Linked DNA regions of Homo sapiens. The protein of the gene in region 3 interacts with the protein of the main gene of each other region in a pairwise test. Each region holds a gene or a part of one and is shown on either strand. Other genes may lie near its edges.

Region 1 (3,531 bases), on a different chromosome or scaffold from region 3:
TGGAATTCTTAGCTTCTCTTGGAAAAGACTGAGGATCCAGTAATAATGGACCTTTTGGCAGGCAGTAAGCTGGAATAGAATATCAATGGACTGTGCTGGCCTGCGTTATTCATATTCATCACTGCAGCTGGTTAAGAACAATCCACACAACAGCGCTTCTCAAGCTTCACTCTATACTTTAGTGTCCTGGGGATCTTGTAAAAAGTGCAAGTTCTGATTCAGTAGGTCCGAGTGTAGCCTGAAACTCTGCATTTCTGAAAGACTCACAGGTGATACAGATGCTGCTGGTCCTCCATCCATACTTTTTTCCTGTTTTGTCGCCCAGGCTAGAATTCAGTGGCAGGATCATAGCTCACTGCAGCCTCGAACTCCTAGGCTCAAGCAATCCTCCTGCTTCTGCCTCCTGGGTAGCTGGAACTGTAGATGCAAGCCACCAAGCCCAGCTCTAATCACACTTTGAATAGCTATGAATTAACAATAAACACAAATTCAAAAGGAAATAGAAAAGCAAACATTATCTTTATTTAATAATCTTTGATATTTAAAATACAACTCATTGAACATCCACACTAACAACAGAATCCTGTGTTCAACAGTGCTTTGGAAGCCCGGCTTTTCTAACGACCAGACAGGAAGGCCTGTGTGTGTAATAACAGCAAATGAACTTAACGAGGGAGCACACACAGAAGGGCTGCAGGGCTGGGTCCTGAGCAAGCGGCACTGCCACAGTGCACTTGTATCATGGCCAAACAACAATGCTTTTTGTTTCAGATATTTTCTGTACTTGAATTTCAAATATTTATACAGAACAGTAATTTTTAAAAAGTTATTCCTAATAGCCCAGTGTTGTAAAAATTAGATAATCACATTTAAAAATGTATGTTTTCCTCTTTCAAAAAAAAAAAAAGCATTAAAAAAATTCAGAAAACATTCCTTGAACTATGCAAGAGACAATTGAGAGCTTCCTAAATGCATCAGGAATATCCATTTATATTTTACTAATGTTTCTCATTGCTTTGTCTATGAATCCACAGGCTTAAAATGTTTTTTGATATGCTATTAAACATGCCAATTACGACAAATTTAGAAGTTACGTTATTAGCACTAATTCTTAAAATGCCAGACCACTTGGAAAAAATAATAATAGCAAAGATTTTCTTCAAATTAAAAAACAAAATCAAAATTCTAGAATTTACCAACGATGTCAATAATCTTCACTCATGAAAGCAAATTAGAACAAAAATATTTTTATTATGTTTAAGACTAAAAAAATACAAAGCCAGGTCATTTTTTAAAGCAAAAAGATGCTGGTTATAAAGGGGCCAGAAATAAAAGAAAGTTTTTATTTTGAATATGAAAAATAAAGTTATTTACATTGCTGACATGATTAGTTGATCCAATCTGGTAGTTCTTAATTAGGGTCACATATATATCCATACTTAAGGACTCGATACAACAAACAATTCACTTTGAAAACAGTGGCCCAAGGCCGGGTGTGGTGGCCTGCACCTGTAATCCCAGCACTTTGGGAGGCCAAGGCAGGCAGATCACCTGAGGTCAGGAGTTTGAGACCAGCCTAACATGGTAAAAGCCCGTCTCTACTAAAAAAAACAAATATTCGCCAGGTGTAGTGGCAGGTGCCTGTAATCCCAGGTACTTGGGAGGCTGAGGCAGGAGAATCGCTTGAACCCAGGAGGTGGAGGTTGCAGTGAGCCAACATCGTGTCATTGTACTCCAGCCTGGGCAGCAGAGCTAGACTCCGTCTCAGAAAAAAAAAAAAAGAAAGAAAGAAAGAAAGAAAAAGAAAATAGCGGCCCAACGCCTCTTCGTTTCCGGATTAAAAAAAAACAAACAAACCTTTAAGATGGAGTTTTACTCTTGTTGCCCAGGCTAGAGTGCAATGGCACGATCTCAGCTCACTGCAACCTCCACCTCCTGGGTTTAAACGATTCTCCTGCCTCAGCCTCCCAAGTAACTGGGATTACAGGTGCCCGCCACCATACCTGGCTTAAGTTTTGTATTTTTAGTAGAGATGGGGTTTCACCATGTTGGCCAGGCTGGTCTCAAACTCCGGACTTCAGGTGATCCACCTGCCTCAGCCTCCCAAAGTGTTGGGATTACAGGCGTGAGCCACTGCCCCCGACTGGGATAAAGTTTTTAATAGGAAGTCATATATATATACATATATATATACACACATATATATATATATATATATATTTTTTTTTTTCAGAAACAGTGTCTCACTCTGTTGGGCAGGCTGGAATGCAGTGGTGAGCCCTTGGCACTCTGCAACCTCTGCCTCCTAGGCTCATGCGATTCTTAGCCTCCTGAGTAGCTGGGATTACAAGTGTGTGCAACCACGCCCGGCTAATTTTTGTATTTTTAGTAGAAACGAGGTTTCACCATGTTGCCCAGACTGGTCTTGAACTCCTGGCCTGAAGTGATTCGCCCACCTCAGCCTCCAGAACTGCTGGGATTACAGGCGTGAGCCACTGCACCCAGCCGGGAGATCATCAATATTAACTATTGAATCCTCGTAAGAATTTAAAACATCAAGATTTATTTTTCTACTTAAGATTTTAAAATTATCATATTTTGATTATGCACTGAATCTATTTTTTATCTGTACAGGTCCAATGGGCCGGTTTTAAGAATTTAGTAGCTCTTGGCACTAGCATGATTTTTTTTTTTTTTTTGAGACAGAGTCTCACTCTGTCGCCCAGTCTGGAGTACAGTGGCACCATCTTGGCTCACTGCATCCTCTGTCGCCAGGGTTCAAGCAATTCTCCTGCCTCAGACTCCCAGGTAGCTGGGATTACAGGCACCTGCCACCGCGCCCAGCTAATTTTTGTAGTTTTTAGTACAGATGGGGTTTCACCATTTTGGCCAAGCTGGTCTCGAACTCCCGACCTCGTGATCCACCCACTTCGGCCTCCCAAAATGCTGGGATTACAGGCGTGAGCTACCACGCCCAGCCGCCACTAGCATGATTTTAAAAATAGTATCAAAAATTCAGACAATCAAAATGTGATTTAGGCTCTGACTGAAATAAAATTTATTTTATTCAACTTAATATTAAACAATATGGACTACTGGTAGTTTTGTCTGCAATGATACTCAACTGGTTTTGAGTTTTTTTCCTCATTTACTTTGGCATCATGAATAAAGTTAAGAAAAATCAAGTTTTAAGGACAAAAAAAAAAAGCACCACCTTAAATAAAATATTCTGTGAATTGTAAATTATTTGGCCAAGATCCTAGTATAGAGTTTACCTGCAGCAGCCTTTTCAAACAGTTTATATTACTGAAATATTTACATGATTACCGTAAAAAACATAGATTGATGGTTTTAGATCAGAGATTAACTATTCTGAATTTTAAAAACATAAATTACTCATTAAATCCATGACATCTGAAAATATGAAAGTGGTATTTCCAAGGCTTAAACTTCTACTAGCATCACCACTGTACATACTTGATCCCAGTAATACAAATTATACATTAGAAAAATGATACCAATAGTTTAAAT
Region 2 (7,554 bases), on a different chromosome or scaffold from region 3:
GGAATTTTCCTACACTGCTGGTGGGACTACAAACTGGGACACTGGAGAGCAACTTGGCAAAACCTAGTCATGCTGACTACAGGCTATCCTTCGGCCTAGTCATTCTACTTTTAGATATATAACCTGGAAAAATTTCCTCACATTTGCACAAAGAAACCTACACAAGAATACGTATTACAGAATTGTAATGCTGTAATTAGAGGAATGGGTAGATTGTGGCATTCAGTGCAACACCAAGCAGCAATTTTAAGTGGATAAACTTAATCGACATGTATCTTCATTTCTGAGAACCAGAGGAGTATAGGGTTAACAGACTCTGGGGCCAGGCTGCCTGGGTCTGAGTTCTGGCTTTTGTACTTACTACGTGATGTGGGTACATTATTTATGTCTCTGTGCCTCAGTTTCTTCAACTGTAAAATGAGGATGGTGATATCTAACTCACGACATTGTTGTAAGGTTTATCGGCACTTAGAATGCTGCCTGGCACAGAGTTAGTTCTACTTCACTTCACTGTTCACTATTTTTAGATAGAGAGAGATAATATATAAACACGCAAAATGAGAACCACGGTCAAATGCTACCTTAAAGACATGCGTGGGGGCGGGTGCAGTAGCTCACATCTGTAATCACAGCACTTTGGGAGGCCGAGGTGGGTGGATCACGAGGTCAAGAGTTCAAGACCAGCCTGGCCAAGATGGTGAAACCCCATCTACTAAAAATACAAAAAATTAGCCAGGCATGGTGGTGCGCACCTGTAATCCCAGCTACTTGGGAGGCTGAGGCAGAGAACTGCTTGAACCCAGGAGGCAGAAGTTGCAGTGAGCTGAGGTCACACCACTGCACTCCAGCCTGGGTGACAGAGCAAGACTCTGTCTTAAAAAAAAAAAAAAAGACACACATGCATGGATACACAAGAGTGCGAGGATAGCACTTATCTTTAAGGAAGGAAGAAGGGGCATAGGATTGGAGAAATTTACAAAGGGGGCTTCAAATGTATTTCTTTGAAGCATCTGCTCTTTAAGAAACGAGTCTGAGGGGCCGGGCATGGTGGCTCCTGCCTGTAATCCCAGCACTGTAAAAGGCTAAGGCGGGCGGGTCACTTGAAGCCAGGAGTTCGAGACCAACCTGGCCAACATGGTGAAACCCCATCTGTACTAAAAATACAATTAGCCGGGCGTGGTGGCGGACACCTGTAATCCCAGCTGAGGGTGAGGCAGGAGAATCTCTTGAACCCGGGAGGCAGAGGTTGCAGCGAGCAGAGATCACACCACTGCGTTCCAGGCTGAGCGACACAGAGAGACACCATCTCAAAAAAAAAAAAAAAGAAGAAAAAAGAAATGGGTCTAAGGACAGTGCAGTGGCTCACGCCTGTAGTCCTAACACTTTGGGAGGCCTGAGGCGGGTGGACAACTTGAGCTCAGGAGTTGGAGAGCAGCCTGGGCAACATGGCAAAACCCTGTCTCTACAAAACATACAAAAATTAGCCAGGTGTGGTGGCACGCATCTGTAGTCTCAGCTATTTGGGAGGCTGAGGTGGGAAGATGGTTTGGGCCCAGGAGGCAGAGACCGAAATGAGCCAAGATCCTGCCATCGCACTCCAGCCTGGACGACAGAGCTCAAAACAAAAGAGAAATGGGTCTGAAGGAAATATGGCAAGACATTAACAAGCGTTAAATGTGAGCAGTGGATCAACAGGTATTTATTCTTATGTCATCTCTGAAATTTTGTGTATATTTGAAATATTTCATAGAGCACTTTGAATATTTTATTCAAAATGATTTAAAAATCCAAAAACATTTAAAACAGGAATGGCTAAAAATCGATGTGGGACTTACCCCAGCTCGCCTCATGACATCTACAGGGATGACCGTCTCCATTTCCTCTGCTCCTTTAGCCAGGATGACCAGAGCTCTTTTGGAAGCCATTTTTATGTTATATGTTTACAAGCCTTAAAAAAAAAAAAAAAAAAAGATTTCAAAAAACTTTCATTGCAACCCTGAGATACCCCAAAATTTAAAGTTTAGGAGCATTTTCAAGCAGAGTAAGTACTTCCTAGGGAAACGGTTTTCATAGACAACTGAATACGAAAAAAGCAGCAGTTTAGTTATCTTAACGTTGATTTGTATAGCAGTTTTAATTGCTCTGAGATGAAAACATAATGAGGGTGCTAAAAGGTGTAGTATTGCTTAGATTTTCTTCTACCATGTTCTCTTAAATCCAACTTTAATAGTATGTTGCAAATGGGTTTTTTAAAAATACAAGTACGTGGGTCTCCTGCATTTCACACAATGCGGGGAAACAGTCTTTTTTGAAGCACTGTTTCAGAGAAACGACTAAACTGAATTTCATGGGCAAAAATTTAAATGTGGTCTTTCGCAATTAACTTGTAATTTTTTGGAGGGGATTTTTGTTTTCTTAGTTATAACTGTACTAAAAAATTGTGTGTGGGGGTCAACAGTGTTAAATGTCTGAACACTTTTTTTAATGACTGAGAAAGATGGAAATCCCCTCACTGAAGTCAACCCAACTACATCTGTCTCTCTGCGCGGAGTTCTCACTGCCAACGACAGCAGCTCAACGAGGTTCCGAATTTTTTTTAGCCTATTTACAGATTATCTGGAGGGTTTACCGTCCACGCAAAACAGAGTTTAATAAAACGGCTAGCCAGTTCCATGCCGGCGAGAGGTTAGGCAGAAGATTCTGGACGCTTCAGCGTTGCCACCACGCTGGCGGTCAGTCAAATCCAACGCCAGCGACAGGGCCCGACTGGGAGGCCGGAAGCGAGGGCGGCCCCGACCCAGGCCCCGCGCCGGTTCTGAGCCAGCGGGACACCGTCCAGCACAGGGACACCGTCCAGCACCCCCACGCCGCCCAGCGCCACGGCCCACACATGCGCCGCGCCCCCGCTGGCGCTGACCTGCACCCCGCGCCTCTTCCTGCGGACGCGGCGCCCCGGCCCGTTGGGTACCACTCACCCCACACCAGGCTGAAAATGAACGCACGCCAGCACGCACGCGCGCCGTCCGGCCTCCCTCAGCCCCACACTGCGCAGACTCACGCCGCCTTGGCCTCACGCTGCGTCACGTCCGGCCGAGTCTACCTCGGACTGAGGCGGGGGTGGCACCGGGGAGTTTCTAGCTGGACAGCCCTGGGTGAGGCGGCTCGGTCCCACATGGTACCCCCCACGAATGGCACAGTCCGGCCTGCCCCGGCGCCCGCGGGGCTTAACAGTCTCTACCGCCACCCTCCGTGAGGAGCCGGTCTCTGGAACTGCCGAGGGACTGGGGTTGTCAGAGGGGTTCCTTAGTTCGCGCTCCGTGCACGCCTGCTCCCTTTGCGTTGTTCCTTTTCTGGCGCGCCTTCCCGTTTCGCCTCTGGTCTGTTAGGACTCTGGTCCAGGCCTCCCGGACCTCTCCCCCACGCCTGGTCTCCCGATCTCGGGCGACTCTGCCGCATTTATTCACACCCGGATGTCTCAGGGGTGTGAGTTTTTTTCTCAGCATTGTTTGTTTTCTTTAACGATCCTGATGCTGCTGCACCCACAGGACTAGAGCAGTGCTGCGCACATAAGTCTAATAAGTACCAAGTTGGTCAGATGTATTTACATCATAATCTCAAGTTGTATTTATTGATATGTAAGAGACGTATGTGTTTTCTGGGTACATGTGGTATTTTGATACTTTCATATAATGTGTAATGATTAAATCAGGGTAAATGAGATCTCTATCACCTTAAACATTTGTCTTTATACTGGGAACATTCCAGTTACTCTCTTCAATAATAACATTTTAAAATATACAACAGATTACTGTTAACTATAGTCACCCTACAGAACTCTGCCAACGCTAGGTCTTATTCCCTCTTAAGGAGAGCACAGATCACCTGGTGACCATCAAGCAGGCCCCTTATCTGAGGAATTTAGAAGTAATTAGATATCCCTATTATCTAAAGTTGGCACCTGGTACCAGGTTAAATCAAAGGAAATAGTTAAAGCCCAAAATTCTTGAATGAGCTTAGAAGGATCCTGGCTAAATGAACGCAACTTGGATTGAATTTGCAAAAAATGAGACATTCGAAAAGGGACATGAAAAATCCACCGCGGCATGCTCAGTTCTCTCTTGCTGAGGCTGCACTCTTCTGCAGCGTTCTAATAAAACTTTCCTTTTTCAAACCTATATTGTTGTCGATAAATTCTTCTTACCAACCAGCAAGTCGACCACTTTCTGATGCTGGGGCTCTTGACACCTTGCCCAGCACTTCTACCAATTTTTGTACCTATTAATCACCCTGTTCATCCCCTTCTCCTGGCTACCCTTCCTGGCCTCTGGTAACCACCAACTTATCTTCATGATATCCACTTTTCAACTTCCCATTTATGAGTGAAATCATGTGATGCTTGTCTTTCTTTGCCTGGCTTGTTTCACTTAACATAATGACCTCCAGTTCCATCAATGTTGTTGCAAATAGGATTTTATTATTTTTTATGGCTGAATAGTATTCATTGTGTATATTTACATTTTATTTATCCAGTCATCCATTGATGAACATTTTGGTTGATTCCATATTTTGACTGTTGTGAACAGTGCTACAATAAGCATAGGAGTGCAAATATCTCTTTGATATATTGATTTTCTTTCTTTTTTTTTTTTTTTGAGACTCCATCTTGCTCTGTCGCCTAGCCTGAAGTGCAGTGGCACCATCTTGGCTCACTGCAACCTCTGCCTCTGTGTTGAAACAATTCTCGTGCCTCAGTCTTTCGAGTAGCTGAGACTACAGGTGTGTGCCACCATGCCTGGCTAATTTTTGTATTTTTAGTAGAGACAGGGTTTTACTATGTTGGCCAGGCTGGTCTTGAACTCCTGACCCCAAGTGATCTGCCTGCCTCGGCCTCCCAAAGTGCTGGGATTATAGGCGTGAGCTACCGTGCCTGGCCCTTCCTTTCTTTTTGGTATATACCGGTAGTGGGATTGCTGGATCATATGGTAGTTATGATTCCAGAACTTATGATTTCTCAGAAGTTAATCTTCTGAGGATTCCATATTGTTTTCCATAGTGGCTGCACTAATTGAGATGCTCGCCAACAGTGTATGAGGTTCCTTCTTCACATCCATCTCAGCATGTTATTCCCTTTTTGATAAAGGCCATTTTAACTGGGATGAGATGATATCTTACTGTCTTTATTTGCATTTCTCTGATTAGTGACATTGAGCCCTTTTTCATATCTCTTGGCCATTTGTATCTCTTCAGAAATGTCTATTCAGATCTTTTGCCCACTTTTAAATCTGATTGTTTTCTTGCTATTGAGCTCCTAATATATTCTAGTCATTAGTCCCTCATCAAATGGATAGTTTGCAAATATTTTCTCCCATTCTGTGTGTTGTCTCTTTGCTTTGTTGTTTCCTTTGCTGTGCATATACTTTTTAGTTTGATGTAATTCCATTTGTCTGTTTTTGCTTTTGTTGTCTGTGCTTTGAGGTCTTTGCCCAGATCAATACCCTGGAACATTTCCCCAGTGTTTTCTTTCTTTTCTTTTCTTTTTTTTTTTTTTTTGAGATGGAGTCTCGCTCAGCCGCCTAGGCTGGAGTGCAGTGGCGCAATCTTGGCTCACTGCAACCACTGTCTCCTGGGTTCAAGCGATTCTCTGTCTCAGCCTCCCGAGTATCTGGGATTACAGGCACCCTCCATCATGCCTGTCTAATTTTTGTATTTTAGTCCAGACAGGGATTCACCATGTTTCCCAGGCTGGTCTCGAACTCCTAACCTCAGGTGATCCACTTGCCTCAGCCTCCCAAAGTGCTGGGATTACAGGTGTGAGCCACCGTGCCTGGCCCCCCCCCCCCCAGTGTTTTCTTCTAGTAATTTCTTTTCTTTTCTTTTTTTTTTTTTTTTGAGACAGAGTCTCGCTCTGTTGCCCAGGCTGGAGTGCAATGGTGCAATCTCAGCTCATTGCAACCTCCGCCTCCCAGGTTCAAGCAATTCTCCCACCTCAGCCTCTAGAGTAGCTGGGATTGCAGGCACCTGCCATCATGCCTGGCTAATTTTTGTATTTTTAGTAGAGATGAGCTTTCACCATGTTGGCCAGGCTAGTCTCAAACTCCTGACCTCAAGTGATCTGCCCACCTCGGCCTCCCACAGTGCTGGGATTACAGGTGTGAGCCACAGCACCTGGCCTAAATACATCAGTGTTTTTAAGGTTTCAATTTAGATATTAAAATCGCGTTTCTGGCCAGGCGCGGTGGTGCGTGCCTGTAATCCCAGCACTTTGGGAGGCCAAGGTGGGCAGATCACGAGGTCAAGAGATCGAGACCATCCTGGCCAACATGGTGAAACCCGGTCTCTACTAAAAATACAAAAATTAGCTGGGCATGGTGGCTTGCACCTGTAGTCCCAATTACTCGGGAGGCTGAAGCAGGGGAATTGCTTGAACCTGGGAGGCGGAGGCTGAAGTGAGCTGAGATCGCACCACTACACTCCAGCCTGGGTGACAGAGCGAGACTCTTGTCTCAAAAAAAAAAAAAAAATCACGTTTATTTTCTTTGTTTTGTTTTTGTTTTTGTTTTGAGACAGAGTCTTGCTCTGTCATCCAGGCTGGCGTGTAGTGGCACCATCTCGGCTCACTGCAACCTCTGTCTCCCAGGTTCAAGCAATTCTCGTACCTCAGTCTCCCGAGTAGCTGGGACTACAGGCGTGCACCATCATGCCCAACTAATTTTTGTATTTTTATTAGAGACGGGGTTTCACCATGTTGGCCAAACTGGTCTCAAACTCCTGACCTCAAGTGATCTGCCCACCTCGGCCTCCCAAAGTGCTGGGATTACAGTTGTGAGCCACTGCACCTGGCCACATTTATTTCAAGAAATAAATTTTTTGTTAGTTTACAAAGCACTTTGGTATATTTCATGTGATTCTTACAATGATGGTGAGTGTGTTATTTTATTTAATTTTAAAAATTGGAGCTGTGCGGGGTGTCTCATCCCAACACTCTGGGAGGCCGAGGCGGGAGGATTGTTTGAGCCCAGGAGTTGGGGACCAGCCTGGACAACATGGCAAGACCCTGTCTCTACAAAAAATTTTAAAAATTACACGCCTATGGGTCCCAGCTACTTGAGAGGCTGACAGCGCAGCGGGGGAATCACTTGAGCCCAGGAGGTCAAGGCTGCAGTGGGTCATGATCTCATGCCACTGCACTCCAGGCTGGATGACAGAGTGAGACTGTGTCTCTAAAAAAAAAAAAAAAAAATGTGAATAATTGATGAACACTGAACTTGTGCAAAAGTCTGAAATGTCTTTAATCATATGACATTTAAGAAGAAACTTTTAGGAGTTCTGGAATGACTTCACTTTTGGCTATTTGCAAAGGAAGCAGCTGTGAAGGAGTGTGGAAAACAGGAATGACAGAGAAAGAGGAAAGACAAGTGGTCAGATGTGTGCTTCTAGAACCAAGGAGGGATACAGTTAGATGGAAGGAAAACCAAAAGAAGACAGGCTTTTTTGATCCAGTCTGCGTGGTAAACTTTTTTTTTGAGTCTCTCTGTCACCCAGGCTGGAGTGTGG
Region 3 (7,388 bases):
GGTTTCACCATGTTGGCCATGCTGGTCTCAAACTCCTGACCTCAAGTGATCCGCCTGCCTTGAGCTCCCAAAGTGCTGGGATTACAAGCGTGAGCCACTGTGCCCGGCCTAGAATTTTTTTTTTTTTTTCTTTTTTGAGACAGAGTCTCGCTCTGTCTGGAGTACAGTGGCACGATCTCGGCTCACTACAACCTCCTCCTCCCGGGTTCAAGCGATCTTCCTGCCTCAGCCTCCTGAGTAGCTGGGATTACAGGTGCGCACCACCACGCCCCACTAATTTTTGTATATTTAGTAGAGACGGGGTTTCACCATGTTGACCAGGAAGGTCTTGATCCCTTGACCTCATGATCCACCCACCTTGGCCTCCCGAAGTGCTGGGATTACAGGTGTGAGCCACCGCACCTGGCCGAATTTCTTAAATTTAATGGAAAAAACAATGAATACATTAACCTAGCTCACAAATCAGAACAAAATGAAGAGCCCCTGTACTGAGAAATTCCACTGTCTTCTGTCCCACCGCTCCCTTCACCCCTGGAGATGGCCTCATCTAATTAGTTTTGAATGTACTTGCCCAGGTGTTTGTTTTGCAAACCCAAATACAGATTTCGTTTGCTCCTCGTATGAGGTAGTCCCCCCTTTTTTTTCACCTCTTTGTAAGGTCTCTAACCAAAGCTAGACAGGTAGCCTCTTAAACGTGTTGTTCTGAACTTTGTTTTTTTCCACTACAGTCTTGCAGACAAGGACAGAAGCTGTAACGTTCATTCCCCCTGCTGTGTAGTATTCCACCATGGGGGTGACACGTCTGTTTTCAGCGCTCTCCAGAGGCTGTCCATGCACTGGGCTGACAGCCGTGGGACGGTAGAAGGGTGAGTGCTCTTTTTTTTTTTTTTTTGAGACGGAGTCTCACTCTGTCACCAGGATGGAGTGCAGTGGCTCGATCTCTGCTCACTACAACCTCCACCTCCCAGGTTCAAGTGATTCTCCTCCCTCAGCCTCCTGAGTAGCTGGGATTACAGGCGCGTGCCACCACACCCAGCTCATTTTTGTATTTTTTAATAGAGACGGGGTTTCACCATGTTGGTTAGGCTGGTGTCAATCTCCTGACCTCGTGATCTGCCCACCTCGGCCTCCCAAAGAGCTGGGATTACAGGCGTGAGCCACCGCGCCCGGCCTGGCTGAGTGCTTTCTAGCCTACACTTAGGTGAAGAACTAAAGGAGCTCAGGACAATCACTGCGAGCGTCTCCTGACTCTCAAATTCCCTAACTCCGGGACTCCTAGCATCTAATGCCTGGACACGGCCCACGTGTGGAGCGCCCAGTGCCTGCAGCACTGAGCTCGGGGCTTTGATTCATTCCTCTGGCCCCATGAACTGGACTGTTCCCGTGTCGCTGTCTCAGGAGGAAAGGGGCTGACAGAGATTAGCTAATTTGGCCAAGTCCTCGCGGCCAGGAAGCAGCAGAACTAAGTCCAAACCAGGGCTGTCCGGCACTGAAGCCGGTTATTCCCCCGCCCCGCCCCCTGGGAGGCCTCAAGGGCGGGCCTGTCCGTCCTCTCTCATGAATGAAAGTCCTGGCGCCTCCGACCAGCAGGTGTCCCCGGGGAGCCGCGGAGAGACTGCCGCTGCCATGGCAACCGGCGGAGGCGTAGCTCGCCCACGTGCCCAGTGACGTCATCGGCTTCCTACTCTTCCGAATTAGCTCAGAGCTCCCGGCGGCCCTGCCCCCTCCTGCCGCCAGGAGCTCACCTGGAGAGGCCAGGCCAGCCCTGGGCACAGCCTCCCGCCCCAGGCCGTGGAGTTCACTAGGTCTGAGCCCAGCCCTGAGACTTCACAGGGATGCACCCATCTGCAGTCCTCCCAGCCTCGGCGGCCTCCTCTGCAAATGGGATTGGCCCATAACCTGGAGGAATTAGGATGACCATGGGAACTCAAGTCCCTTCTGTGCCCCCGTCCTAAGATTTCCATGGCAACTGGGGCCGCGAGGCCTCTTAGGGAAGACACTGACGCAAGCTCTCAGGGCAGGACCCCGTAGGCAGCACCCAAGCCTGCCCTCGCCCACCCCATGTTCTCAGCCCTAGGAGTGGGTGCCCCCACACGCCCACGACCCCTCAGCGCTCGGAGCCTTGAGGAGCCCACCAGGCACTGAGGACACTTGAAGCCCCTCTCTCTCGAAAGGCGTGGTCCCCCATGGTCGGCGGCCCCGCGACCCGCAGGCCAGGACGAGGGGCGCGCTCCTCCTGGCCTGGCGCCTACCTTGATGGTGGTGAACTCCTTCCTCCAGGGCAGCAGGTACAGGTGCACCGCGGCGAGCTCCAGAAGCTCGAAGGCGCGAGCCAGGCCGCGTAGCGCGGGCGCCAGGTCGGCGCGGCCCCACAGCCCGTCGGTGAGCAGAGCCAGCGCGTCGTCCTGCAGCGCCCCGTGCAGGTCGAAGTCCTCCACCAGGATCTGCCAGAGCACCGCGCGCAGCGAGGGGTCCCCGCACACGCCCGCGCGGCCCCGTCGCAGCTCGCGCTCCAGGCACTGGCGGTAGTCCTCGGACAGCGAGCTGCTGCCCATCCTGCGGCGGACGGGGGTCGGGGGGGTCAGGGACCTAAGGCCGCGCCCAGCCCGCCGCGCTCTCCCCGAACCCTCACCCAGCGTCCCCAGGACCCCTCGAGCCTGGAGACCCCGCCCCCAGCGGCTGGGCGCCCCCGGTATCTTCGGCACCCCCTACGCTGGAGACCTCGGCCCCATCAGCTGCCCGCCCACCCAGCGATCCAGGCCCCTCCAGTTGAGCGCCCCCGCACCTCCAGCCCCTCCCTCCAGCCTGGGTACCTCGGCCTTCCAGGGGCGCCCCCGGTTATCGACCGCACCCTTCTCTAGAGACGCGCTTCCGCCCGCTGAGCCCTCTCCCGACCAGAGCCCCTTCGCCCGGCAGATGGAGCTGCGGATCCCGCGGGTGACGGCGCTACCTGTCTGTCCCCAGCGGTCTCCGGCCGCCGCGGATCAGTTCGGGCCTCCCCGCGCGCCGCGCGCTTCCGCCGGGAGTCGGCTCCGCCCGGGGTCCGCGGCCGTGACGCTGGGGGCGGGGCGGGGCTTGGCGCAGGCCCCGCCTCCGAATAATTTAGGAGGGGCGGGGCCTGGTGAAAGGGGAGGAGGAGGTGTCAGCCCGGCCGAGCCCCTGCGCGAGGCACCCCGAGAGCCTCCTGTCACCGCGTCGCCCGTCTCCTCGCGGGACCGGTATCGTTCACGACGCCGCTGGGCCGAGGGCTGCGGGCTCATGGCAGGCGCTCAGGGAACGTTGTGCCTGGGCCGCTCCTCCCCACGAGACAGGGACCCAGCCCCAGGCGACCCGGCCGCGGGGAAGCAGGTGCGCGGGCTCGTCCCCTGGGGGGTGGGGCCACCGGCATTACCTGGCGGGGATTGGCTGGATCCTGGGAAGAGCCTTTCCTGCGGGGCGGGGCCACCTGCATTACCTGGCGGGGATTGGCCGGATCCGGGGGCGGGCCTCCCCTGTGGGGCGGGGCCATCCCCTTGAGGGAGGGGCCCGCGGCACGGAAGGTGGGCGGAAGGACAAGCCTTTCAGCCTCGTCTGAAACAGCAGCCTCAGGTGGATGCGGGGACCTCAGATTCTGTTTATGCTGGCTCCGCTTCCCGGCCTCCTGCACTTGCCATCTGCAGCCCTTGAGAGCATCGTCTGGGCGGGTCTCTGAGGCAGGGCGAAGCCGCCCCCCTCTCTAGGCTAAAAGCTGACCTGGGCTGCGGATCCACCCAGGCTAAATCTGGGCCACGACTTCCCGGGGACGTTTTCTTCGCTCGGGTTCCTCTGTTCTGTGCTACAGCCACTTTCTCGCATTGCCCAGAAGTAGAGGAGGATGAGGGAGACCCTTGGAGGTCCCAGCCGAAACCCACCCCTACCCCACACCCCCGCTTTGGGCAGGCTTTGCTACTTCACGTCTGTGTCCCTCATCTCTCCAGGCCACCAAAACCAAGGCCCAAGTTTGTTGAAACTTTCCCTGGGCCTGGGCGGCGAGGTCCCCCCTTTTTCTTAGATTTTTTACCTGGAAGTTCCCTGCTGGCATCTTAGAAATAGTGATCATGACCGGGTGCGGTGGCTCACGCCTGTAATCCCAGCACTTTGAGAGGCCGAGGCGGGCGGATCACCTGAAGTCAGGAGTTCAAGACCAGCCTGGCCAACATGGTGAAACCCCGTCTCTATTAAAAATACGAAAGTTAGCCGGGCGTGGTGGCACATGTCTGTAAGCCCAGCTACTTGGGAGGCTGAGGCAGGAGAATTACTTGAACCTGGGAGGCAGAGGTTGCGGTTGCAGTGAGCTAAGATCGTGCCACTGCACTCCAGCCTGGGTGACAGAGCGAGAATGTCTGGAAAAAAAAATCGTGATGCAGTCGGTGGATCTCCCTGAGTTATCTAGGTGGCCACCTCTGGACAGGGAGCTCTTTTACTTACTGTTTACTGAACTCACTCTTGGTGCCCAGTGCCACCATGGGTCCACACCAGTCCTCAGGACAGCTAACTTCGTAAGTCTCATCTTTATTCTTCTTCTGATGCGGAGGAGGGTGGAGGTAACTGTTCTGCCTTTGTCCTCACTGAATTTGGCAACACCAGTCCATCCATCCAGCAGTGGGCCTAGCTCTCCTCCCATAGGCCTGGGTGGGTTTTTGCACCTGCCTCAACCCATGGAATAGAACTGATGTGGAATGAATTCCAAGGCTAAATCATAAACATGCCATACCCTGGCCTTGTCTTGAGATCCTTGGCCTCTGACATGGTTTGGTTCTGTATCCACACCCAAAATCTCATCTTGAATTGTAATCCCACAGGTCTGGAGCAGGACCAGGTGGAGATAATTAAATCTTGGGGGCAGCTTCCTCCATGCTGTTCTCGTGATAGTGAATTCCACGAGATCCGATGGTTTTATAAGGGGTTCTCCCCTTTGTTCAGTGCTCATTCTCGCTCCTGTCGCCCTGTGAGGAGACGCCTTCTGCCATGATTGTGAGTTTGCTGAGGCCTTCCCCAGCCATGCGGAACTGTGAGTCAATTAAACGTCTTTTCTTTATAAATTATCCAGCCTCAGGCAGCTATTTACAGCAGCATGGGGACGGACTAACACACCCTCAGAACCCAGCCACTAGAGTGAGAAGGCCACGGCCGTGTGCAGAGCTTTTGGCCTGCAACTTCGACCTGCGACTCACATTCACCTGCAGCCTATTCTTGGGACTTTTTTGGAAATAGTTTTTCCAGACAAAAATCAAGATGAGTTTGTTCTGGGCCGAGCGCAGTGGCTCACGCCTGTAATCCCAGCACTCTGGAAGACCGAGGCAGGTGGATCACGAACTCAGGAGATCGAGACCATCCTGGCTAACACACTGAAACCCCATCTCTACTAAAAAATACAAAAAATTAGCTGGGCGTGGTGGCGGGCATCTGTAGTCCCAGCTACTCGGGAGACTGAGGCAGGAGAATGGCGTCAACCCAGGAGGCGGAGCTTGCAGTGAGCCGGGATCGCGCCACTGCACTCCAGCCTGGGCCACAGAGCAAGACTCTATCTCAAAAAAAAAAAAAAAAAAAGGATGAGGTTGTTCTGGGTTGGCATGGGCCCTCAATCCAGTATGACTGCTGTCCTTATGAGGAGAGAGAAACTTAGATATGAACGCACAGGAGAGAAGACCGCTTAAAGACGGAGGCAGAGTGGAACGAGGGTGCCGTGAGCGAAGGTAACACAGCTGTGTTAGAGCCACCAGAAACTGGAGGCAAACAGAATTCTACCCTAAAGCCTCCAGAGGGAGTCAGCCCTGCTGACAGCTTGATTTTGACTTCAGGCCTGCAAGATGGTGAGAGAGAACATTTCTGTTGCTGTAAGCCACCCATTTTGTGGTCGTTTTGGCAGCCCCTGGCAACACATCCAGTCCTCACGTCGTCGTTCCGACAGCCCTGAATGAGGTCCCAGCCGACAGCTGGCACCAACCATAGACAGCAGACAGCTCTTCGGATGAATCCAACCCCTGGTCATTGGGTTACCACCTAGAAACAGCCTCCCATGATGCTGAGGAGCCATCTGGCTGATTTTTGTACTTTTTGTATTTTCAGCAGAGACAGGGCTTCACTATGTTGGCCAGGCTGGTCTCAAACTCCTGACCTCAGGTGATCCACCTACCTCGGCCTCCCACAGTGCTGGGATTGCAGGCGTGAGCCACGGTGCCCAGCCTAATTTTTAACTTTTTAGTAGAGAGGGGGGCCTTACTATGTTGCCCAGGCTGGTCTCAAACTCCTGGGCTCAAGTGATCCCCCCGCCTCAGCCTTCCGAAGTGCTGGGATTCCAGGTGTGAACCACCATGCCTGGCGTCTTGAGTATTTAAGCCCCTGAGTTGGGGTAGTTTGTTAGGCAGCGGTGGCTACGTGGGCTGTACACATTCACGGCTCCCTCCCTTCCTGCCCGGGGATGGACACTCCATGAGCTGCCGTGTGGATTCTCCGTCCTTCCCTGCCCTCCCGGGACAGACACTCCATTGCCTCCACTGCATATACATCCTCTAAAACCGGCAGCAGCCTTGCCAGGTCGGAGGTTCCGTCCACACTTACCTGGACTCCAGGACTGCACCTGGTCCCCTGGGGCCACTGCCGTGTCCACCCCACAGTGTGCGTGAGCTCCCTCCCCCTCCTGTACTCAGCATCGTCCAGCTTCCTCATCTTCTCCGGTCCAATGGATATAAGGTTACATCTTGTTTACTTTTCATTTGATTTTTGTTATGATTTGGACACTGCTTATGCAGAATAGTTTTATTTTTATTTTTTTTTAGATGGAGTCTCGCTCTGTGCTCAGGCTGGAGTACAATGGCGTGATCTCGGCTCACTGCAGCCTCTGCCTCTCAGGTTCAAACAATTCTCCGGCCTCAGCCTCCTGAGTAACTGGGACTACCGCCACCACGCTCAGCTAATTTATGTATTTTTAGTAGAGACGGGGTTTCGCCATGTTGGCCGGGCTGGTCTCGAACTCCTGACCTCAAAAGAGCCGTCCGCCTCGGCTTCCCAAACCGCTGGGGTTACAGGCATGAGCCACTGCGCCCAGCCATTACTTTTTATTTTATTTTTATTTTTTGAGACGGAGTTTCTCTCTGTCGTCCAGGCTGGAGTGCAGTGGCACGATCTCAGCTCACTGCAACCTCTGCCTCTCAGGTTCACGCCATTCTCCCGCCTCAGCCTCCCGAGTAGCTGGGACTACAGGTGCGGGCCACCACGCCCGGCTGATTTTTTGTATTTTTAGTAGAGACGGGGTTTCACCGTGTTAGCCAGGATGGTCTTGATCTCCTGACCTCGTGATCCGCCCACCTCGGCCTCCCAAAGTGCTGGGATTACAGGCGTGAGCCACCGCGCCCGGCCATTTGTAGGAT

Evidence for each region. Proteins that work in one complex are often made in the same cells at the same time.
Region 1: the proteins of SPATA2L (region 3) and ATXN3 interact in binary tests that used the Homo sapiens proteins (3 or more experiments, as listed by UniProt).
Region 2: the proteins of SPATA2L (region 3) and PARK7 interact in binary tests that used the Homo sapiens proteins (3 or more experiments, as listed by UniProt).

The regions. Positions count from the first base shown.
Region 1 is NC_000014.9:92,058,052-92,061,582, forward strand, and holds the end of ATXN3 (ataxin-3 reference isoform), read right to left. Parts: 3' UTR 501-3,531; downstream 1-500. UniProt on the Homo sapiens protein: Deubiquitinating enzyme involved in protein homeostasis maintenance, transcription, cytoskeleton regulation, myogenesis and degradation of misfolded chaperone substrates.
Region 2 is NC_000001.11:7,957,157-7,964,710, reverse strand, and holds the start of PARK7 (Parkinson disease protein 7), read right to left. Parts: upstream 3,001-7,554; 5' UTR 2,918-3,000; exon of another isoform or gene 2,630-2,917; intron 1,949-2,629; 5' UTR 1,926-1,948; coding exon 1,836-1,925; intron 1-1,835. UniProt on the Homo sapiens protein: Multifunctional protein with controversial molecular function which plays an important role in cell protection against oxidative stress and cell death acting as oxidative stress sensor and redox-sensitive chaperone and protease.
Region 3 is NC_000016.10:89,698,678-89,706,065, forward strand, and holds the start of SPATA2L (spermatogenesis-associated protein 2-like protein), read right to left. Parts: upstream 3,029-7,388; 5' UTR 2,951-3,028; exon of another isoform or gene 2,814-2,950; intron 2,557-2,813; 5' UTR 2,556-2,556; coding exon 2,253-2,555; intron 1-2,252.